7 linked regions of the Homo sapiens genome follow. The protein of the gene in region 3 purifies or fractionates together with the protein of the main gene of each other region. This does not show direct contact. Each region holds a gene or a part of one and is shown on either strand. Other genes may lie near its edges.

The links.
Region 1: the proteins of CORO6 (region 3) and POC1A purify together in Homo sapiens (affinity purification with mass spectrometry; 2 studies listed by BioGRID and IntAct, with this or other methods). This does not show direct contact.
Region 2: the proteins of CORO6 (region 3) and KAT14 purify together in Homo sapiens (affinity purification with mass spectrometry; 2 studies listed by BioGRID and IntAct, with this or other methods). This does not show direct contact.
Region 4: the proteins of CORO6 (region 3) and GABPA purify together in Homo sapiens (affinity purification with mass spectrometry; one large-scale study listed by BioGRID and IntAct). This does not show direct contact.
Region 5: the proteins of CORO6 (region 3) and PPP1R12C purify together in Homo sapiens (affinity purification with mass spectrometry; one large-scale study listed by BioGRID and IntAct). This does not show direct contact.
Region 6: the proteins of CORO6 (region 3) and UACA purify together in Homo sapiens (affinity purification with mass spectrometry; 2 studies listed by BioGRID and IntAct, with this or other methods). This does not show direct contact.
Region 7: the proteins of CORO6 (region 3) and ZNF318 purify together in Homo sapiens (affinity purification with mass spectrometry; one large-scale study listed by BioGRID and IntAct). This does not show direct contact.

The regions. Positions count from the first base shown.
Region 1 is NC_000003.12:52,095,424-52,098,923, forward strand, and holds part of POC1A (POC1 centriolar protein homolog A), read right to left. Parts: intron 1,290-3,500; coding exon 1,146-1,289; intron 1-1,145.
Region 2 is NC_000020.11:18,158,363-18,161,862, forward strand, and holds part of KAT14 (cysteine-rich protein 2-binding protein), read left to right. Parts: intron 1-721; coding exon 722-903; intron 904-3,457; coding exon of another isoform or gene 3,458-3,460; coding exon 3,461-3,500. UniProt on the Homo sapiens protein: Component of the ATAC complex, a complex with histone acetyltransferase activity on histones H3 and H4. May function as a scaffold for the ATAC complex to promote ATAC complex stability. Has also weak histone acetyltransferase activity toward histone H4.
Region 3 is NC_000017.11:29,614,262-29,617,087, reverse strand, and holds the end of CORO6 (coronin-6), read left to right. Parts: intron 1-45; coding exon 46-150; intron 151-240; coding exon 241-386; exon of another isoform or gene 387-387; intron 388-751; coding exon 752-809; intron 810-912; coding exon 913-1,143; intron 1,144-1,230; coding exon 1,231-1,356; 3' UTR 1,357-2,326; downstream 2,327-2,826.
Region 4 is NC_000021.9:25,741,472-25,744,971, reverse strand, and holds part of GABPA (GA-binding protein alpha chain), read right to left. Parts: intron 3,412-3,500; exon of another isoform or gene 3,400-3,411; 5' UTR 3,374-3,399; coding exon 3,297-3,373; intron 1-3,296.
Region 5 is NC_000019.10:55,104,138-55,107,637, forward strand, and holds part of PPP1R12C (protein phosphatase 1 regulatory subunit 12C), read right to left. Parts: intron 1-3,500. UniProt on the Homo sapiens protein: Regulates myosin phosphatase activity.
Region 6 is NC_000015.10:70,655,559-70,659,058, reverse strand, and holds part of UACA (uveal autoantigen with coiled-coil domains and ankyrin repeats), read left to right. Parts: intron 1-1,931; coding exon 1,932-2,003; 3' UTR 2,004-3,500. UniProt on the Homo sapiens protein: Regulates APAF1 expression and plays an important role in the regulation of stress-induced apoptosis. Promotes apoptosis by regulating three pathways, apoptosome up-regulation, LGALS3/galectin-3 down-regulation and NF-kappa-B inactivation.
Region 7 is NC_000006.12:43,363,148-43,366,647, forward strand, and holds part of ZNF318 (zinc finger protein 318), read right to left. Parts: intron 2,294-3,500; coding exon 2,145-2,293; intron 1,073-2,144; exon of another isoform or gene 268-1,072; intron 1-267.

The sequences.
Region 1 (3,500 bases), on a different chromosome or scaffold from region 3:
AGGATACCATGCCATCTCAGCTCCATTTCCGTTAGTGACATCAAGGGTCCTTTGCGTCCTTCATGTGAGCTGGACTGGAGACCACTCTTCCTTGCTTCCCCATCCCCCACCCCCTGGCTTTAACACCTCTTTTCCTCGTGGGCCACATGTGTCCCTCTTGCAGCCTCGCTCTACCCATGTGCTGGCATGGTAGAGGAGGATCTGCAGAGTCCCAGCCTGGCCTCAAGAGCCAAGGAGATGAGGAATTGGGGAACCTCTAAATCCTGCCTTGCCCCCCACCCCAAGACCACATATCCACATGACAGCCACCTGGAGCTTCACTCATTCCCTGGACGTGCCCATGGCCTCTCCAGAGCCACAGGCAGCCAGGACCTCTCTTCCTCCCTCGGGTGAAATGGCCCTGCCAAGCATGCCCCTATTGCTGGCCACCACCTCTTGTCAAGGGATTTTGCTCTTACTGAAACTGCTACACTACGAGCCTGTGTTATGGCTGCCAACCTACGCTCCAGAGGGCAGGGCCCATATCCATCTCAGTGACGAGGGTGGTCAGGGCCACAACTAACATTTATTGAGCAGCTACCTAGGGCCAGGCATGGGCCAAACATTTCCCAGATTCATCTCCCTTAATTCTCACCATGAATGTGGCAGGCAGAGCCCACAACCACCAGCACATTACAGATAAACATACCAGGGCTTGGTGAACTAAAGGGATTTCCCCAAGGTTGCACAGAGGATAAGGAAAGGTCCAGGCTCAAACTCATAGCCTAGGTTCTCAGAAGCCCTGACTCACTACTCAGTTCCCTGGCATGCCCCTGCAGTGCCCATCCAGCAAAGAGTGGGAGGAATAAACAAACACAGTGTTTCTTTCAAAGCTCTTCAGTGGCCCAGGCCAGCTCTAGGTGAGCACACTCCAGTAGTACCCAGCATTGGGGATTTTGGAGTCTAGTGGTCTGGCCAGGGCTTGAATGGCTCCAAGAGCCAGGATCCCCGGGAAGGCTCTGCAATGTCATTAATATGGACTGGAAAACAGGTCCGTTATAATTATGTTTTTAAAAATCCAGCACCTGTTGTCCAACTTCAAACGGTCCAAATGCGGGACCAAGTGCAGATGACGGGATGACGGGTGAACCCACAGTGTGGCCTACCTGAGTGAGGACATCCAGCTGGCCCACAATGTGCTCCAGCGTGCTAGTCAGTGTCTGGGGCACACTCACGGGCTCCTGGGGCTGGCTCTGCACAGACTCCACACTCCTGCCTCTGCCTGGGGGGACAGGGAAGTCCACTTCTGGCTAAAGACAGAAAGAAAAAAGTTCCTCAGTCTATCCAGTGCTTGAAGAAATACTGTGAGAGGAATAGCCCCTCCAAAGGATGAAAGGGAAAACCACCAGCAAATTTGAGAAGGTAAGCTCCAAGTGTCAGTAAGAAACAGCAGCGTGGCGGTGTTCCCACATCTGGGTCCACACACATACCTTTCCAGGCAGAGGCCTTAAGTGGGGAGTGGAATCAGAATGCCTTGTGATCCAGGCAGGAAGGGGCCTGGGGAGGAGGGCAGGTAGGCAGGCCAGTGAGTGGCCTCAGCCTGCTCTTGGAGCCCCTCAGGGAAGCTAGCTGCCTCCCATATCTTCAAGCAGCTGGCACCCACCAGCAGGCATCCAGGTGAGTCCAGAGATGCTGAAGCCTGGCCTGGGCCTGAAGTCCCTCCTCTTCCTGGTCAGCTCAACTCTAATTCCCCACCCTTCAACATGGGGGTGTGCCAGGCTTCACAAATGCCTTTCCCAGGCCCAAGAAGCTGTGGCCCAGAACTTGGTGGAAGTGTGTGTGTGGCGGGGAGAGGGGTGTTCCAACCCCACCCTGGCCCAGATCCCCTGGAAAAACAAAGATTTCTGTGTGCATGTCCCAGGCTGGCACATGGCTGGCAGGAATCAGACTCCACAGGAAAGGCACCCCTGGGCTGCTTCAGATAGGACTCCAGGAGGTGAGGGGCTTAGTGTTTCTGCGTAAGGCCCTTCAGCCCCTAAATTCAGCAAAGTCAGCTCCTTGCCTTATGCACAAAGGCTTCTGTGGACCGAAGAAGTGCTGTGCACATGTTCAGTGGGCGGGATGCTGGAGCCAAGGATGTCCAAGGGCAGGGCTGGTCTTAGAGCCTGCAGTTCCTCTGTGGACTTGTTCCTGTGGGAATGTGGTTCAGCACATGGACCCTACCTGCATGTTTTCCTTTATTAGGTAAGTATTCTATTCTCATAGATCACAAACTTTCAAGGGCATGCTGATTTGAACTTGGAAAAATGCTGGCCCTCATGGTAGCTACAGGAGAACTTGAATGTGAGACATGAGCCAGAGGGATGTTCTTGACAGCATGAGCAGCACCGTGTCCACACACCTATCATCAGCATGTCGGCCACTTCCGTGGCCATTTCTAAGACTTCGGCCATCAGGGCTGGGTCTCTTCCAGTCCTCCAGGAATCAACGTGCTTCAGATCTCAATGCTTACCCAGAAGCCCATCCCAAAAGGAAATTTCAGAAGTCCACCAGCCTTGCCAGGAGAGACTTCAGCCTACCACAGTGGCCCCCAGACTAAGGCAGTTCTGTCAGGAGACACAGCAGAGTGCAGTGGTGAGGAATGGTGACTCAGACAGTCACTGACCAGCTCTGGGCCTCCATTTCCTCATCTATAAAATAGGGATGAAGACTGGGCCAGTCCTTCAAACGGCTGGGCTGTGAGAGGTGCTTATCTGAAGCTACCAGCAGGCCTTTCTTAAGAAATGTTCAGTGCTGTGCCCACTCCTTCCAGAGGACCCCCTAGCAGTGCAGACACACACTCTTCCACTGGAGGAAGGGTGTGAGCAGGGAACTCTTCTGTCCCACAGCCAGCATTGTCATGGAATGGGCCAGAGTCTGGTGCTGCTGGCTGCTTAGGAAGGAGGGAATGGAAAATGTGAGTTTCTGCAGAATGGCCCAGAAATGGACAGTGCTGAGCTCAGCCTCTGGAAGCACAGTGGATGCTGCAGGGAGGCAGGGTGAGTACCACTGACTTTAGCAATAGAAACCCTCCTGGATGAGCCAAAGCTGAGCCAGCTCCAAGGGAGTATTAAAGACAGCGGCCATGGCACTCCAAGCTGGAGAGGTGGCCTTTACAACAGAGGGTTGCGGCAGCCACCATGTTTTCCCACCTATACCACACTTTCATGGGCTGTCTCCATTTGACAATAAAGAGAACTAAGGCTCAGTCAGAAAACGACTGTCTAAAGGTAACCAGCCTCAAACTCTAGTGCTGCCCTGAGCCATTTCCCTGCCTCCTTGCCCACTCCCATCAGAAAACACCACAGCACTTAACACTCCACCAGTCCAGCAATCGCCATGGTTTACTTGCCATCCACTGTGTGCCCTCATTTAATGTCACCTCACTTAATACGTGTAACCTCACTTCATCCTTATGATGGCCCTTCCCAATAGGCATTATTAACCTTATTTTTCAGATATGGACCCTTGGGCTCAAAGAG
Region 2 (3,500 bases), on a different chromosome or scaffold from region 3:
TGTTAGACTGGTCTTCTTGTGAAAGACTGTCTTCTAGGATTTCCGGGGATTGATGTATCTTTTCAAGGTGGAAATAGAACAGTCGCCTTGAAAGAATTTCCGTTAGGGAACCCGGATAGTTGGCATTTTGCATGTTTTGTTATTTTGTTGTGCAGTAGGTGCTCTCTGTGTTTGTGGAGTATACCACATAGTTTTGTTACCACTCTAGTGCATCGAGGCAGATAGGATCAGATTGAGAGATGTGTGCTACTCCTCGGGTAAAATGAGGTATTTACTGGAGCCAGTTAACTTCTATCACAAAATGCCCAGCCTTGGAGTTACACTTTTTGTATGCTTTATTCTTGGGAGCTGTGCTTAATTCACATAACAAAGCAACTTAATTAAAATTAGCCTGTAGAATTCCATAATCGTGATGATTGTGATGAGAAGTATTTCACGTGCTTTGTTTGAATTATTGCATTTAATCCTCACAGCAACCCTGTGAGGTAAGTTCTATTATCCTGATTTTACAGATGAACAAACCGAGGCTGCTAGAAGTTGGTAGCGCCAGGGTTTGAAGCAGGCGAACTCCAGAGCCTCTCTCCTGCCTCTCGTGCTCTGCTCCTTCAGTAGCTGGAGGTGCCATTGCATGTTGCAGGCCAGGAGTCACAGTATACACAGACTGTCTTTTCTGTATAATGAGCAAAAGTGCCAATCATTTTTAAATTCTTGGACTCTTTAGGAAAAAGACGTCTACCTGGTGGAGCACCGTGGCAGGTTGCCTCAGCGTGGGAAGTCCCATGTACTTCCGTTCAGGTGCTCAGGAATTTGGAGAGCCAGGATGGTGGAAACTTGTTCATAACAAGCCCCCAACGATGAAACCTGAAGGAGAGAAGTTGTCTGCCTCTACTTTGAAAATAAAAGGTACTGTTGTGAGAACAGTACAAAAGTTGCTAGTCAGACCAGAGCCAAGCAGGTGTGAGCCCAGGAGACGCTCCTGCTTCCACTGGGCATGGCTCGCAGGCCTCTCTGGAGCTACTCTGTTTAACACTTCTGTGATGACACTTGTGTGTGTGCTAGAAATAAATGCCACATAAAAACATTTTATCACTTCCTAATCAAGCTATCAGTTTTATAAATTTCCCAGGGTATCTGAAAGGTTCAATGTTTTCCATCTGGTTTTTGTTTTTAAACTTCTCACAAAGGTGAAGAGATATTTTAAAATTCCCGTAATAAATAACATGATGAATTCCCATGTACCTTCCACCTCACTTTGACATTAACTCCTGACAGTCTCATTTTATCTAAATCCTCAGTACTTTTCCCCAACCTTCCCCATTCTTACAATTGGATTATTTAGAAACAAATCCCAGGAATCAACATTTCATTCCTAAATATCTTAGTATGTATCTCTAAGAGATCAGGATTCTTTCCTTTTTGCAGCCTGACCATAATGCCATTTTCATATTTAAAAAGATGTTAACAGTGACTTCTTACTATCACATATTGATCTGGTTTTATAATCTAAAAAGCTTTTAATGAGCTTTTAAATTTTTATATTTATTTGTTTGCTTGTTTGTTTATTTATTTGAGGTACAGTCTCGCTTTGTTGCCCAGGCTGGAGTGCAGTGGTGCAATCTTTGCTCACTGCAACCTCTGCCTCCTAGGTTCAAATGATTCTCGTGCCTCAGCCTCCCAAATAACATGCCACCATGCCCAGCTAATATTTTTGTATTTTTATTACAGACGGGGTTTTGCCATGTTGGCCAGGCTGATCTCGAACTCCTGACCTCAGGCGATCCACCTGCCTTGGCCTCACAAAGTGCTGGGATTACAGGGTGAGCCACCGGATCAGGCTGATGAGCTTTTAAAATTTTAAAAATATGATTGGGAAGAAAATCAAATAGTACTTAAGGGTGTAAAGTATGAAAGTTCCCCCACCTGCCTATGGCCTGCAATTTCACTTCCCAGAGTAACCACTGTTGTCTTTTGTGAATACTTTCAGAAAGATCTCTGCAGATTTAAGCATTTTCTTAGTTTTTTAAAAAAGTAAAATGGACTCGTACTATTATGAGTTTTCCATTTTTGCCACACTTACCAGTATGTCTTGGACATCTTTCCATGACAGTACATGTAGATTTACCCTATTTTATTTCATTACATCCATTATATAATTATGTGATAATTTGTTAAACCATTCTCCTGTTGATGGACATTTTGGTTGTTTCTACCTTTTTGTTGCTATTTTATTTATTTATTTTTTAATTAAAACATTTTTAAAAAGTAATAGAGATAGGGTCTCGCCATGTTTCCTGGGCTGGTCTTGAACTGTTGGGCTCAAGTGATCCTCCAGCCTCTCCTTCCAAAAGTGCTGGGATTACAGGCATGAGCCATCATGCCTGACCTTTTGTTACTTTAAACAGTGCTACAATTCTACAAATTTGTGTACATGTGAAAATGTGATAAATTCCTGGAGTTTCTACATCAAAGGGCATATTCATTCAAAATTTTAATCAGGATTGCCAAATTATCCTCCAAGAAACTGTAATAAGGCCGGGCATGGTGGCTCATGCCTGTAATCCCAGTACTTTGGGAGGCCGAGACAGGTGGATCATCTGAGGTCAGGAGTTCGAGACCAGCCTGGCCAACATGATGAAACCCCATCTGTACAAAAATACAAAAATCAGCCGGGCGTGATGGCGCATGCCTGTAATCCCAGCTTCTCTGGAGGCTGAGGCAGGAGAATTGCTTGAACCCGGGAGGCGGAGGTTGCAGTGAGCCGAGATCACACCACTAACATTCCAGCCTGGGTGACAGAGCAAGACCCTGTCTCAAAAAAAAAAAAAAGTACCCATTGAAATGCCCATGAAAATGCCCATTTCCCCATACATTTACTGAGCTTTATCAAACTTTTTTTTTGGCTCACTGCAGCCACCACCTCCCAGGCTCAAAATCCACCCACCTCAGCCTCCCAAAGTTCTGGGATTAAGAGGCGTGCACCACCACGCCTGGCTAAACTTTTAATGTTTGCCAGTTCCAGTAGGTGAAAGATAGTATTTATTTGTTTAAATTTGCAGTATAACTTCTTTTTTCTCAAGAGATATCTAAGTCTTTTTTAGTTTAGGGCATTCATTGAACATTTCTCTTTATTGAACATGATATTACTCATAATAATAAATTAGCAAAAGAAACTAAAGTTGAGTAGTTATTTTAAAATTTAGATATGGGTTGAGCAATCCAAATCTGAAAATCCAAAATCAAAAACACTCCAAAATCTGAAACTTTTTCAGCACTGACATAACGCTCAAAGGAAATGCTCATTTGCAGCATTTCGGATTTTGTATTTCTGGGTTTGGGATACTCAGCCAATAAGTAAAATGCAAATATTCCAAAAGCCGAAAACATCTGAAATCCAAAACATGCTTGTGCCCAAGCATTTCAGATGAGGGATACTCAGCCTGTATTTATTCTTTCTTAGCAGCCTCAAAACCAACTTTAGATCCCATCATTACTGTTGAGGG
Region 3 (2,826 bases):
CGGGAGGGTGGGGCAGGGCTGGTCACGCCTCCTGTGCTCGGGCAGAACAACTTCGAGGAGCCAGTGGCACTGCAGGAGATGGACACAAGCAACGGGGTCCTATTGCCCTTTTACGATCCCGACTCCAGCATCGTCTACCTGTGTGGCAAGGTGCTCACGGCCGGGCAGGGAGAACAGGGCACTGGATGGAGATGTGGAGGGCCTTGTCCGGGCGCGCCCCTGAACCGACTGATTTTGCAGGGCGACAGCAGCATTCGGTACTTTGAGATTACCGACGAGCCGCCTTTCGTGCACTACCTGAACACGTTCAGCAGCAAAGAGCCGCAGCGGGGCATGGGTTTCATGCCCAAAAGGGGACTGGATGTCAGCAAGTGTGAGATCGCCCGGTCAGCAGCCTTGGCCCCTCCTGAACACCTACCCGCCTCTGTCCCCCACTCATGTCGGGTCCTAGCCACGGGGCTTCCCCAGTAATGCAGTGCTTTGGAAAAGCGGGGCGGGGGGATAAGACAGCTCTGTTTCAGTGCCAGACCCACCGCTCACTAGCCTTACATTCTCAACTTCAGTTTCCTCATCTATAAGATGATGGTGAACACACCATCAGGGTGTTTTATTGCAGAACCAATAATGTGTGTAATGTGCAATATGCATGGTAGGCGCTGAGCAAGTGTTGGCCTCCAACCCCCTTGGTCTTAGACAGGAGAAGTTAAGGACGTGGAAGTCTGCGAGGGTGCTGAACCCTGCTCCCTTATAGGTTCTACAAGCTACACGAAAGAAAGTGTGAACCTATCATCATGACTGTGCCCCGCAAGGTGAGGGGCCGGGAGAAGGGTTGGGCAGGGCTACGAGGCGGAAGGGAGCGGAGCAAGCCCCGCACCCTCTCACGCAAGTCCTCCTGTCCACCCACCCCCGCAGTCAGACCTCTTCCAGGACGATCTGTACCCGGATACGCCAGGCCCGGAGCCGGCCCTAGAAGCGGACGAATGGCTATCCGGCCAGGACGCCGAACCCGTGCTCATTTCGCTGAGGGACGGCTATGTGCCCCCCAAGCACCGCGAGCTCCGGGTCACGAAGCGCAACATCCTGGACGTGCGCCCGCCCTCCGGCCCCCGCCGCAGCCAGTCGGCCAGCGACGCCCCCTTGTCGGTAAGATCGGCCCTGCTGCACTCTGGCCCAATCTACATCTCCCCCAACCGCCCCTATACGACACGGCCTCTCTGTCCTCCGCCCCAGCAGCAGCACACCCTGGAGACGCTGCTGGAAGAGATCAAGGCCCTCCGCGAGCGGGTGCAGGCCCAGGAGCAGCGCATCACGGCTCTGGAGAACATGCTGTGCGAGCTGGTGGACGGCACGGACTAGCCCCGCGCGCCAGGCAGGCGGAGCGGGGCGGGGCGCACAAGCTCGGCCCCGCCCCGGCTTTTAGTCCCGAACTCCGGACCCCGCCTTCTTGGGCTGGGCCCGGGGGCGGGACTGGGGAGGGAACTCCGCCCCTCGCGGGAGACCAGAACTCTTGGAGCTTAGGGGAGACCCACGTCGCTCCAGCGGAGGCTGGACTGCGAGCCTCGTCTGGGACTCGGCTGGAGCTGGCCTAGGGAGGCCTGGGGTAACCTGGGGGGCTCAGCAATGGTGCTGCACGGCGAGGTGGTGTCCCCCTTTGTCCTCCGCCCAGGGCAGGGAAAGTGCTTAGTATTAGCGTGATGCTTGGGGTTATTGGAGCCTGAGCTTGACCTCAAACGGGTGGCGATTTGATGGGTACCCCCAGGCTGGGGAAAATGACAGCGCTTCTCCTAATCAGCTCACTGGATTCCATCACCCTGAGCGGTAAACCAGATGGGCGTCACCCCAGTTCTGCAGACACATACACAACCCGTTTGCTGCAGAGCCGGACCCAGTGGCTACACCCACAGCGGTCTGTGGTAGAGAACTCTCTTCCTTCTTTCCACCGACAGGGGCGAGGGCTGCTTCCTCGCGGCAGCCCCCGCGAAGAAATCTCGAGAGAACTGGCATGAGGAGTTAGGTTCATCACAAATACACACACACTGCCCCCAACCCTCTGCCGTTGCCTCTCTCAGAAAAACAAGACGTACTGAATGAAATATTTTACTAAGCGTTCAGTCTGTGCCTCCTGCATGGGTGGGAGTGAGGGGAACGAGACCCCCAGCCTCTGCAAATGCTACCCCCAGGCTCCTGGGAGACCTGGCGATGCACTCCTGGGCTCAGGGTCCATCAGGCAGCCTCTTACCCTAGAGCTCTCTCCACTCTGAGGTTCAGAAGGACCCCAACCCACACCGTAGGCGTTCCCCCCAAGTAAAGTTAGGTAGCAAAAGCCTCCGGTATGAAGCCTCTTTTATTTGTGCCTCAGAATCAGTCTGGTGCCCCTGGCATCAGGGAAGGGGGTGGGAGGAACAGTTTCTCTTTGTTCTTTTCTTCCATCCCTCTTTGTGTCCCTTCTGAGCCTCACTGGCTGAGCCGGGAAGGCCAGTCCCAGACAGGCCCGGGACAAGGGTGTGCGGTGGGCCCCTGCCCCTGGCGGGGTCTGTGCTTCTCTGGGTGGGTGAGGTGGGGCAGGGGAGAGCCGGGGGTTAGCACCATTGGATGAAGGGTTTTAGAGTCAGTCTCCGTGTGGGGGCAAGTGGGATGTACAACCACAGAGGCTAGCAGCAGCTGGTGGGAAGGGGTGGGGGTGGCGCCAGGGCCCTGGGCGAGCCCTTTGTGTCCAGTCTACTTGGGTCTAGTGCTTACCCCAGCCCAATATGCTCCCCACTCTCCGAGGCACCATGAGGGAGTCAGGGCTTGCACAGGCCAGGGGGCTACGTTGGACACACTCCC
Region 4 (3,500 bases), on a different chromosome or scaffold from region 3:
ATGTACATACATATGTGTGTATGTGTACACATATAAACATTGCACATACATTATGTTTGCATTTGCATTACATTTTCAAGTTATTTTGAAGAATTTTAGACCCAGAAAGGAAGACACATTGTCTCCTCAAAATCTGTATGCCATCTCTACTAGTCAATTTCCCTTCCCCACATAAAAAAAAAGAAAGATATAAAAATAGAATAAGTTAAATAAAAGACTTTCCCTTTAATTTAATATGAACACAACTGGTTATAATCAGGACAGCTCAACGTTTAAAAAAAAAATGTATATTCTTCCTAAAAACTGTCTTAGTGCTCTTTCATATTATTTCACACTTTGAATTCAAAAGGGTTAAAATCTTTGGTAAGTAATCCTACATAACTCTTACAAATCCTTATATAGGGCCAAATAGACAAATACTAAGTAATATTTGCTGAATTGGTGAATGTGGAATTCAATTAAGTATTCCAACATGTTTAATTTAAATATGATTTAAATCTTATTTGTGATTGTCAAAAACAGTATGCATTAAAAATCTGTCAAGTTTTCACATAAATTACAAGTAAAATGAGATACATACATGATATTCAATGAATGTATATAGCTTAAACTTTTTTCTAAAATATTTATTTATATTTTAATTTTAGAGAGAGTCTCCCTATGTTCACACCAGGCCGGCCTCAAACTCCTGAGCTCAACTGATCTTCCCACCTCAGCCTCCCAAGTAGCTGGGACTACAGGTGTGTGCCATTGCACTTGACTTAAAACATTTAAAATTTATAAAATAGAACCCTCATGATTAAAAACAAGCTTATTTAAAAATACTAGTCTACTATTGTTATTTGTTAAGGTAAAAAAAAACTTTAAGTAAGCCTTTTTACCAAACTCTTCAGCTATAGCCTGGTAGGTTTTTTTTTTTTTTTTTTTTTGAGACAGAGTCTCGCTCTGTTCCTAGGCTGGGGTGCAGTGGCGCGATCTTGGCTCACTACAACCTCCGCCTCCCGAGTTCAAGCGATTCTCCTGCCTCAGCCTCCCGAGTATCTGGGACTACAGGCATGCGCCACCATGCCTAGCTAATTTTTGTATTTTTTGTAGAGACTGGCATGTTGGCCAGGATGGTCTCGATCTCTTGACCTCGTGATTCACCTGCCTTGGCCTCCCAAAGTGCTGGGATTACAAGCATGAGCCACTGTGTCAGGCCAGTTTTTTCTTTTTTTGTAACAATTACTCTTAAGATTCAAATGTCACTTTTAAAACAAATTTTTAAAGAACTACTTTATACTAGCTGAACATTAAACATTTTTAAAAAGTTTTTATTGCTATCATTTAAACCTTGGAAGACCTCAAATATCTAAAGTACCAATTTCTCTTAAAAAAAAAAAAAAAAGATGATCTCATACTACTAGACCTAAATTCTTGCACAGCAAAAATCTACGTTAGGTGAACGACAATTACTGCCTCCTTCACATAGGTCATACATATTAATTACCAATCTGTCGCCTAACCTAGACTATCCACAAAAGGTCAGATAGTACATACTTTAGACTTTGTGGACCATCTGTGTGCATGCATGTATAAATATATGCATGCTAGACTCCAAGAGGGCTGCCAATGATTCTTAAATTCATGCCCTTTTAAAGTTCCCTCCAGCACTGTACTAGGGTTGGACTGTGTGACCAGAAGACTAAGACAAAGTGATATGTCACTTCTTAGATTACTTAAAAAAGACACTGGGGCTTTCTACTTTGCCATTCTGTCTCTCAGACCATTTGCTTTAAGGGAAGCCAGCTGCCATCCCATGAGCAGCCCTAGAGAGAGTCATGTGATGAGGAACTGAGGCATCTTGCTGAGAGTCTCAAGCATGACTTTGGACGCAGACACCCTAGCCCTAGTCAAGTCTTTACAAGACTGCAGCCTGGGCTGACAGCTTCATTGCAAACTCATGAAATACCCGAGACAGATCCACCCAGGTAAGTTGCTCCCAGGTTTCTCTGAGAAACAATGAGCAATAAAAAATGTTGGGCTTTTTTTTTTTTTTTGAGACCGCACCTTGTCCTGTCACTAAAGCTGGAATGCAATGGCACAACGATGGCACAATCATGGCTCACTGCAGCCTTGAACTCCTGGGCTCAAGCAATCCTCTCACCTCAGCCTCCAGAGTAGCTGGGACTTAGGCACATGTCACCAGGCCAGGCTATTTTTTTTTTTTTTTGTATGTTTTGTAGAGACAGGGTTTTGCCATGCTGCCCAGGCTGGTCTTGAACTCCTGGGCTCAAGTGATCTGCCCACCTCAGCCTCCCAAACTGTTGGGACTACAGGCATGAGCCACTGCATCTGGCTGAATGTTACGCATTTTTAGTTTCTGAATTTTGGGGTAATTTCTAACACAAATATCTATACATGAAATTCCACAGAAGCATGCATTCCCTCTTTCTTATGCTGGAAAAACTGGGATAAACAAGTTGAAAAGCTCTATTAAAAATTTAAGATTTTAAATCTCAACTGTACTCTCAATACTCAGTATCCTCCTTAACCTTAATTATCTTGTCCAGTTCCACTGCAGAAACTTCTAAACCTTTGTTACTCCACAGAGATCTCTAGTACTTTTCAATCCCTTTTACTTTCAGCTTATTATCTCACCTCCTACTTCACGGAGTACAATAGGGACCATTAACTACTACTTTCCTCAGTCTTCTTGTTGACTCCCAAAGTCTATTTCTACCCATGTTCTCTCCTGGATTCTGAACTCATTACTACTGTCCTCCTTTCAAATAAGTATGATTCCACTATTATTCCAAGAATTAACACTTTTCACTACATTTTATGCTTAGTACTGGTCCCGTAAGTACTCATATACCTGTATGTCTCCTCAAATACAACGTGGCCTTTATAAGGGCAGATTAGTATCTTATTTATTCACATATTCTTGTCAATTAGTTGTTTACAACAGTTACTCATAAATATTTGTTAAATGAGTTCAGGTTGAATTAAACTATTTCTGAAATTAAAGCAACCAGTGCTGAGGAAAAGAATAAAGAATCAAATGCCCCAAAGGAGAAAACTATTGAAAGCAATTGCTTTTGATTTCATTTACCCTTTTACTACCATTAGTTTAAAACTGTCTTTCCCTCTCAGCTACAACCACATTAAGTCAGAGGAAATAAAACAATACATTATTCCCTAAAATACTGAGAACAGTTAAAAAAAGACAGTCCAAAAGAACTATGACTTGTTTCCTGGTTTTAATTAGGTATATTGATATTTTGAAAAAAAATGATAAATTCAGAAACACCAACCTTTCTTCTGTGCACTCTGCTTTCTCTGTTCCATCAATCTCAATTTCTATCAGCTCCTCTGCTTCTCTTTTAGTCATGGCTGGAGTATTTCAAAGGATCAGTCCTGCAAGAGTGACTTTTTAAGATATTTTAAAACTATCCACATAAACGAAATGACACACAAGAAGTAGAGACCCAATCCAAATAAAAAGCAAACGCCAAGCA
Region 5 (3,500 bases), on a different chromosome or scaffold from region 3:
GGGCAACACAGTGAGACTCTGTCTAAAAAAAAAAAAAAAAAAGTATATATATATATATATATACACACACACACACATACAAAAATATAAATATAAAAAATATTTATATATATAATATATATATAACATATATATGCATCTCCTATATATATAACACCTATATATACACATTTCCTATATATATAAAACCTATATATATATCTCTCCTATATATGTAACATATATAGACAGAAGTGGTAATGGTGATAAAATGTATGAAGATGCTGGATTAAGATTATATTGGGGGGTGGCACAACGGCTCATGCCTGTAATCCCAACACTTTGGGAGACCAAGGTGGGCAGATCACCTGAGGTCAAGAGTTCGAGACCAGCCTGCCCAACGTGTTGAAACCGTGTCTCTCCTAAAAATACCAAAATTAGCTCAGCATGGTGACTTATGCCTGTAATCCCAGTTACTTGGGAGGCTGAGGCGGAAGGATCTCTTGAATCTTGGAGGCGGAAGTTGCAGTGAGATTGCACCACTGCACTCCAGCCTGGGTGATAGAGTGAGACTCCGTCTCCAAAAAAAAAAAAAATTATATTGGTAGTGACAGGAAAAGTTAGATGTAATTGAGCACTGGATTTGCTCAGTAAACTTTAGGCCATATATATATATATATGGTCTCGCTCTGTCACCCAGGCTGGAGTGCAGTGGCATGATCTTGGCTCACTGCAACTTCTGCCTCCCAGGTTCAAGCGGTTCTCCTGCCTCAGCTTCTTGAGTAGCTGGGATTACAGGCACACGCCACCACACCCAGCTAACTTTTGTATTTTTAATAGAGATGGGGTTTCATCATGTTGGCCAGGCTGGTCTTGAACTCCTGACCTCATGATCCACCCGCCTCGGCCTCCCAAAGTGCTGAAATTACAGGCAGGAGCCACCGCATCTGACCCTTTTTTTTTTTTTGAGACAGGACCTCACACTGTCACCCAGGCTGGAGTACAGTGGTGCAATTATGGCTCACTGAAGCCTCAAATTCCCAGGCTCAAGGGATCCTCCTGCCTTGGCCTCCCAAAGCCGGCATGAGCCACCACACCTGGCTGTGTCATTTCTTTAAAGGAGTCACCAACTGTTCAATCCTATTATAGCCGAATGGGTCTCAATTCAGGGAGGGGAAGGGAGGGTGACTGGCTTTTTATTCAACCACAGTCAGCGCCCTCTGCATGTCTGCTGCACATCCTTCTGCAATTTGCTTCTTGTGTTCAACATGTTGCTGAGATCTGTCTGTATCTGTAGACAGAGCCCTTGCCCAGGGGTCAGAAAGCTATAGCTTGTGGGTGTTGACCACCTGTTGTGTTTTCTTTATCTTTTGTTGTGGTGGTGGTGGTAAAATAAACAACATAAAATTTACCAACTTCCCTGTTTTAAAGTGCACAATTCAGTGGCATTTAGGATACCTCCAATATTATGCAACCATCACCACTATCTACTTCCTGAGCTTTTTCATGATCCCAAATGGATACTGTATCCAAGAAGAAGTCACTCCCAGCCAGGCACCATGGCTCATGCCTGTAATCCCAGTACTTTGGGAGGCCAAGATGGGAGATCACTTGAGCCCACTAGTTTGAGAACAGCCTGAGCAACATAGGGAGACCTTGTCTCTAGAAAAATAAAATTAGCTGGGCATGGTGGTGCACACCTATGGTCTCAGCTACTTGGGAGGCTGAGATGGAAGGATCACTTGGGCCCACGAGGTCAAGGCTGCAGTGAGCCATTATCACTCCACCGCACTCCAGCCTGGGAGGCAGCGTGAGATCCTGTCTTAAAAAAAAAAAAAAAGTCACTTCTCAGACCTCCCTCTCCGCCAGCCCCTTGCACCCAGCAATCTTTCTGTCCCTGTGGATTTGCCTATTCTGAAAGGCGATTTTTGTCAATAAACGTGGGATGGAACAGTCATTCCCATTCATTCACACACCATCCCTAGCAGTCTCCCGCTCCACAGCACTAGTGGAATAGTGGTGCCAGGCATGGTGTGTCCCGCAACACCTGAAACATTCATTGTCTAGCCCTTTACAGAGAAAGTTTGCTGACCCCTGCTTAGATCACTCATTTAGAGTTTAGTGATTGATCCATCCTCTTTGGTGTGGGCTCCGACCTCTTACTACTGCAAACAATACTATGATGAACATCTGCCCATGGTTGGGAAGGCCTCTCTCGGGCTGCCCAGGAGTGGAACTGCTAGAACAAGGCAAAGCTGGGGCCTTCGGCTATAATCCATGCTGACCAACCACTTCCCAAAGTAGCTGGAATCATCACCTTTCCCACCAGGCAGAAATCAGCTCCCGTGTCCGCCCTTGTCAGCACTTGGAGCTATCCAATGGTCGATTCCGCCTGCCTCCAAGGGTAACTCCCCCTCTTCCAGCTGACTTGGATGCTGGAATTCCAAGTGAGCTGGCTTCAAATGTTTCAAAAACACATCATGTCTTCTTCCTGCCAGTTCCATGCCCCTGTGCAAAGTGGCCAGGGAGGGTCCCTTCTGCACAGGACATGGTGCTGCTGCGTGTCCCTGCAGCACAGCTGCTGCTTGGGCCTACGAAAATCCATTCTCCCTTCCCCTGTGACCTCATCTTGACTTTCCTCACCCACACTTTGCCCCATATGGTTTCAATGTGACCGGGCCCATAGCCTGGCTCCAGGGTGCGCACATCACCAGGCCTTCCTGTCACCTTTGCAACAGTGATGGGCTCAGGAGCTGCCATCTGACCAAGGTGGCCCAGTGAGCATCACGCACAGGGCAAGAGGTGCTGTGTTTTGGCTGTGATATGGGCCTGCAGTAGGACCCATGCTGAGTGCCTCACGGAGAGAACCTGTCTAAGAGTGAAGCCAACAGAGTTCAGCAGAGTGATAGAGAGATGCTCTGGACTTCACTTGTGCCCCTGGATCAAGCTATGCCTAGAGCCCATATGGACTTCAGCTACATAAGGCCATAGACTGCCTTTAAAAAAAAAAAATGTGACCAGGCACGGTGACTCACGCCTGTAATCCCAGCACTTTGGGGGGCCGAGACGGGTGGATCAGCTGAGGTCAGGAGTTCAAAACCAACCTGGCCAACATGGTGAAACCCCATCTCTACTAAAAATACAAAAATTAGCTGGGCATGGTGGCGGGTGCTTGTAATCCCACTTACTTGGAAGGCTGAGGCAGGAGACTTGCTTGAACCCGGGAGGCAGAGGTTGCAGTGAGTCAAGACCATGCCACTGCACTCCAGCCTGGGCAACAAGAGTGAAACTCCATTGCTGCTGTTTTTCACAATAGCAAAGACTTGGAACCAACCCAAATGTCCATCAATGATAGACTGGATTAAGAAAGTGTGGCACATATACACCATGGAATACTATGCAGCCATAAAAAAGGATGAATTCATGTCCTTTGTAGGGACATGGATGAAGCTGGAAACCATCACTCAGCAAACTATCGCAAGGACAGAAAACCAAACACTGCATGTTGTCACTCATAGGTG
Region 6 (3,500 bases), on a different chromosome or scaffold from region 3:
GGCTGAGAAACTCACTAGTATTGGCCATGAGAGGAAGAGGTTGCTCCTAATGAAAAATACAGCAAACTAACAAGCCTTTCCACTTTGTATAATATGCACTTCCGGAATTTGAAATTATTTTCTACTGTGTCCTAATGAAACATAACAAAAGCAATTGACATCAGAAATAGTCTTGCCTTCTGGCATCATAAAGTTAACTAAGAAATTCAGTTCAGTCAACTATGGCTAATGTTTGAAATGTAAACATCCTGCTGTTATAGAAACAGATTTTGGAAGCAAAACTTTTCATATTAATAGGAAGTGTTGTGCTGAAACCTATTTAAGTACTCCAGGAAAAAAAAAATGTGTGTGTTGGGAGGGGGTGCGGTATTTTAATAAGCCCACCATATTGAGTTGCATTTAATCAACTCGTGCCACCATTTTAAGTTTAAAGTATTTTTTAAAAATATAAATGGCTAACATGCATGTAAAAAAGATACTTGGTTTCATCAGTAATGGGGGAGATGCAAATGAATAAGAACATACCATTTTTCACCTGTGGGACTGGCAATATTACACAAGATTATAGTCTATCGTGTTAGCCAGAGTGTATGGGAAATGGGCATTTTCACTCCATTGATGGTAGTGTACAGATTGTTACAATCTCTGTAGAGGGAAATTTTGTAGTACTTAACAGAATTAAAAATTGAGACTGCTTTTTGACCCAGCAATTTCTTCTCTAGTAATCTTTCCATTAAGATTGGAAATACCTTAAATGTCCATCGTTAGGGGAATGGGTAAAGAAATGTAATATGTCCATGCAGTGGATATTATACAATAATTTAAAATAATTGGGTAGCTCAAGGGAAAGATTTCTGTGACACTACATAAAAAAACAAGTTACAAAATAGTATGTGTTATATAATCTTATTTACGTAAAAACATAAATATGGGTTTTTTAAATCAATTACTTAAATTTTAAATTTTTTTAGGAGACAGATTCTTGCTCTGCCATCCAGGCTGGAGTGCTGTGGCACAATCATAGCTCATACAGCCTCAACTCCTGGGCTCAAGTGATCATCCTCCCTCAACCTCCCAAGTAGCTGGGACTACAGGCACATGCCACCACACCCAGCTAATTTTTTTTTTTTTTTTTTAAGTTTTTGCGACAGTCTCCACTGTATTGTCTAGGCTGGTCTTAAACTCCTGGCCTCAAGTGATCCTCCCACCTTGGCCTCCCAAAATGCTGGGATTGCAGGTGTGAGCCACCATGTTCAGCCATCAGTTAGTTTTCTAAACAAACAAACAAAAAACCTCAGCAGCAACAACAACAGATTTCCTTGTAGTTTACTTTGTTCATTTATAACTTATGCTGCCCCTATCATCCAAGGCTGTTATTAAAAAAGAGAAAGAGGGAGGTTTATCCATTTGTTTTCTGGTAATGGAAGTTAGAGCAGCTGTTGTGCACTAGTCTTTTTGTTTTTTCAGATGGGGTCTCGCCATGTCACCCAGGCTGGAGTGCAGTGCCACAATCTTGGTTCGCTGCAACCTCTGCCTCCCAGGTTCCAGCGATTCTCCTGTCTCAGCCTCCCGAGTAGCTGGGATTACACCCGTCTAATTTTTATATTTTTACCAGAGATGGGGTTTCGCCATGTTGGCCAGGCTGGTCTCGAACTCCTGACCTCAAATGATCCACCCACCTCAGCCTCCCAAAGTGCTGGGATTGCAGGCGTGAGCCACCACGCCCGGCCGTGCACTCCTTATTAATTGATCTTATTTTCATGATAGGGCTGTACTCCCTTTTCCAGTAATTCCTTTAGAAATCACAATGATGAGGATTTAGCATTTGATGAATCAATGACTAGTTATGCTCTGTAAAAGCTTTATCTTTAGAATTCTTATGTAAACAAAGATGACATAAAATAATGCTCCTCTTTCTTCTTTCTCCGAAGGGTCACATGGATGAAGATGTTCAGGAGGCTCTGCTCCAGATCATACAAATGCGGCAGGGGCTTGTGTGCTAGCCGTTAGCACTGACTGCCAGTATCTGTTTTATCTTGCTGGTGCTGAACATTCTTTGTGCAACTCCATGGTCTTTCTGGGCCTTACTGTGCTGGTATAATTAAAATAAAATATATTTTGTTCTATTGGTAGGTTTTTTTTTAAAATTAGATGAATATGTTAGTCTTTTTCAATATCAGTTTGAATCTTATTTTCTGTATGTGTTAATTTTACAAATAGGCAAACAACATAACTTTGCCCTGGATTGACTACATATTTTTAAACCTTCAAGTCCCTAATAAAACATGAGCCATCTGAGTGAGTCCATATGAAGCGAGGTTAGGCTGAAATAATTGCTTAAAGATGTCTTTCAGAGAAATTAATTTGGTTGGTGGCCACTTTTAGGTGGATCAAAAGACCTTTCAGATCCTCAGAACCTTGAGACATAATACAGTTGTGAGGAATGTGTTGTAACTTGGCTGGCCAAGTTACATGTTACAGTATCTTTACTGAGGTAACTTCATTAGTGTCTTTGGCCTTTTTTGTAGGTATAGATATTTTTTCTTTTTACACTAATAACTTTTATGCCTTTTAAAATAAATTTATTTTCATAAATGGTTTGCAGTGCTAAATTACATTTAGATTAAGAACAGGCAGGGGTGGAATATATCAGGAATTTATAATAAAATTGCCTTAATCTCTACAACAGTATCTTAATTTTTACTTGCGGTGACTATTCTTGCCACAATATTGGAGAATAATGATAGATGATATACTAGATTTTTCAAAGTGTGAAAACCTTTAGACTTTTTTTAGCAATTAGTTTGACATTCGCTACTATAGTAACCAAGCACTCATTATATATGCATCCTCCAAATGTTTCATGCTTATTTATAGGAAAGTTATATTAATGAGATTAATAATGTGAAATACAGTTTTCCTGCAAAATTAGCATTAGAGAATTGATTTTAGATAACAGATTTTTAAAGTTTTAGAGAAAAGTACAGTAATACAGTAAACTGAAAGAGTATATAGATAGCAATAAAATAACATAAGTGGACATGTTTATAGTAAATACTCTGAAGTAAACAACCGTTTTTATTAACTGCATCTCATTAGGGAAAGTTTATATGTCTTGTTATTTTTTATTAACATTTTATTTACCATTCAGAGTGAAAATTACTAATTTGAGTATTAACAAATAACTGAATAAATGGATCATTACAGTTAGGTTTTCTCAAATTGCAAAATTTGCCTTAGCAATTATCTTTGAACATCCCGAACCAGATTTTTAAATCCCATTTTTGTTTAATAGGGTAAAAATACCATCAAAATGACTTCTCATACCAAAGAATAAGCCATCATATTTTTTCGGTGTTGAAACAACATTGAAAGTCAGAATTGGATTTGTTTTTAATTCTTTATACGGTTTACATAAGCAATATCTGTCTCTTTAATTATTATGATTAATGTCGTCCTTCAGCATGAGTTCTGTTTCACAAGTTTTGGGCCACCTATTT
Region 7 (3,500 bases), on a different chromosome or scaffold from region 3:
CTGAAGCACATGTGCATAACAAAGTTTATGCAAAGGGGAAGTGACATCCTAGGCCTAAGAAGAACTGCTGAAGCTAACTCAAAACCTCAGCAAAGAATGAAGACAATCACACTATGTACCACCTACCCAGACTACCTACTCAATAATTTCCCCAAACAGAAGCAGCCAGAAGAGCAAGGGCTATTGCCTCAATTAAGTGATACAGTCACATATCTTGAAGCCCTTTAGAAGCTTCAATGTTATATGACATAAGACTATTTTGCCTTGCTTCTTCTCTGAGAAAACACCAAATGGCAGATGATGTCGGTGGAGGGGGTGGGGCGGGGGCAGAGGCCCCGGGGGCCCTGGGATGGGAAACCGTGGTGGCTTCCATGGAGGGGCTGGGGTTGCAGCTGTGGACAGGGCTGAGGCCACGGAGCTCGTGGAGGCAAGGCCAAGGATAAGGAGTGGATGCCTGTCACCAAGCTGGGCTGCTTGGTTAAGGACATAAAGATCAAGTCCCTGGAGAACTACCTCTTCTTCCTGCCCATCAAGGAATCTGAGATCACTGACTTTTTCCTGGGGGCCTCTCTCAAGGATGAGGTGTTGAAGATTATGCCAGTGCAGAAGCAGACCCACACTGGCCAGTTGAAAAGGTTCAAGGCGTTTGTTGCCATCGGGGACTACAATGGCCACGTCGGTCTGGGTGTTAAGTGCTCCAAGGAGGTGGCCACTGCCACCTGCGGGGCCATCATCCTGGCCAAGCTCTCCATTCTCCCTGTGCACAGAGGCTACTGGGGGAACAAGATCCACAAGCCCCACACCGTTCCTTGCAAGGTGACAGGCTACTGCGGCTCTGTGCTGGTGCACCTCATCCCTGCGCCCAAGGGCACTGGCATCGTCTCAGCCCGTGCCCAAGAAGCTGCTCATGATGGCTGGTATTGATGACTGCTACACCTCAGCCAGGGGCTGCACTGCCACCCTGGGCAACTTCGCCAAGGCCACCTTTGATGCCATCTCTAAGACCTACAGCTACCTGACCCCCGACCTCTGGAAGGAGACAGGATTCACCAAGTCTCCCTATCAGGAATTCACTGACCACCTCATCAAGACACACACCAGAGTCTCTGTGCAGAGGACGTAGGCTCCAGCTGTGGCTACAACATAGGGTTTTTATACAAGAAATATAAAGTGAATTAAGCCTGAAAAAAAAAAAAAAAAAAGACTGTTCTGCCTTGCTTCACTGCATCCACAGCCAATGGAACTTTTAGGTATTACCAACGGCAAAACTGGTCCTCAGACTTCCTGCCCAGCTCTCCCCCACCCGCCTAGCTATGCTCTGTGCAACACGGCAAGCGACAGTCTCAGTTTGAAATTACATTACATTGATTTATTGCTACTGCTAATCATTTGTCAAAACTCCCAATGTGCTGGGCAGAGACCATAACAGTCATGGTCTCAGCTCTGAGAAAGAGTGCTTTCCTGAACTCCCATCCATACTTTGACTTTTGTGAGGTGAAAAACACCTAATGTGATTATTTACAATCTATATATGGTTAAGTTCCTAGTACCTGAGGTCTATATCCAACTCTCTTGAGTGTATCTACCCTTCCTCAGCACTCAATAGTTGTAAAATAATAACTGAACTTAAACATTTTTGAAGGTCTCTAGCTTTCTATTAATACTTTATCTACTTCACATACACACATATATTAGACATGAACTTACCTAACCCTTTCTGAATCTGTTTCAGCCTGGATAAACTAAAAAATAACACCATTTTAAAAAGACTTCCCATTTTGTCCAGAACTTTTCTTTGGAGAAGGGACTGCTCATAGTTTCACTGTTTTAGAATCTATACCATCTCAACTGTTCTTCATTTGGGGGACTCTGATTATGTCCCCTCAGCCTCTTCTTTCTAGTCAGACTCAGATGACCTTTTTAAAGTCTTTTTTTCTATACAATTTATTCAACAACAGAGTCTACACATCATTATACTCCTCCCACTTAGAAATTCTATCCCAGCGTTTTATTTTGTACTGGACATGTGGCATAGGAAATAACTTTAGAGCTGGCACCATCCTTTCAAATATATCATTCGGAAAACAGCAACATTTCTGCCTTCAAGTACTAGTATAGTAGGCCCTGCCTTAGGTGATGCCTACCTGTCCATGTCTTCCAGATTATCCACTGGTGACCCCAGCCGATCACTAAGCCGTCGCCGTTCTGGTGTGCTAACACAGAAGTGGTCATTGCCAACAGTGATCCTTAAGCTCTTTTCCAAAGAGTCAGAACACAGACCAGGAGAGCGTCTCTACAAAAGTAAAGGATAATATGGTTAGTCAATAGGGTCAAGACATCCCTACATCCAAAAACTCTCCTCCCTAGTTACAAAGTTAGCCAGGCATGGTGGCTCATGCCTGTATACCCAACACTTTGGGAGGCTGAGGTGTATAGGCCCAGGCAAGAATGTGAGACCAGTCTGGGCAACACAGACTCCATCTCTATAAAAAAAAGTTTAAAATTAGCCAGGTGTGGTCCCAACTACTCAGGTGGCTGAGGTGGGAGGATAGCTTAAGCTTGGGAGGTCAGGGCTGCAGTGAGCCATGACTGCACCACAGCACTTCAGCCTGGGCAATGAGCAGGACCTTGTCTCAAAAACAAAAGACAACCCTGCAAAGTTGGGGTTCAACAAGGTGAGAAATGGTTATGGTAAGACACTATACCAAAAATAAAGCACTTTTTAAAAATTATCATTTTCTTAGAGATATAAGCCCATACCTCTAACTCTCCTAAACGGTGACCTCTCATTCTTACTGGGCATGGGAAAAGAGAAGTGAATAAAGTCCCTGCTCTCAGAACCCTACTTCTAGTGTACATACTTCTAGTGAAGGAGGTAAGCCAAAAACAAGTTTAAAGAAAAAAAAAATTCTTCTGGTAAGTGCTATAGTCATTAAAACATGGTACCATAAAAGGAGTTACTTCAGATAGGATGGTTAGAAAAGGTTTTTCTCAGGTGATAACCTGAGGCCTGAAGAATGAGGTGTCAGCTTTGCAAAGAACAGGTAGAAAGATGTTTCAGGCAAAGAAAAGAACCACCTCAGTATAGAGCTTGGTATACTTTAAGTAACAGAAAAGCGGCCGGTGTGGCTGCAGCAAAGTGACAGAAGAGGAAAAGATAGGCAGAAAGCACAGTTGGGAAATTTGGATTTTATTCTTAGTGCAATTAACAGTTATAGGAGGGTTTTACACAGGATAGTGACATCATCTGACTACATTTTTCCTCCAGATGCTTGCACAGCACACCCTCACCTCCTTCAGATCTTTATTCAAAAATCACCTTCCCAGGAGGCCTTCCCTGACTACTCTCAAAAATTTTAACTCCCCGGGCCAGGCATGGTAGCTTATGCCTGTAAGCCCAGCATTTTGGGAGGCTGAGGCAGGAGAATCACTTGAGGCCAGGAGTTTGAGACCAGCCTGGGCAACATAGTGAAATCCCTCCCCACACCAAAACATTTTTT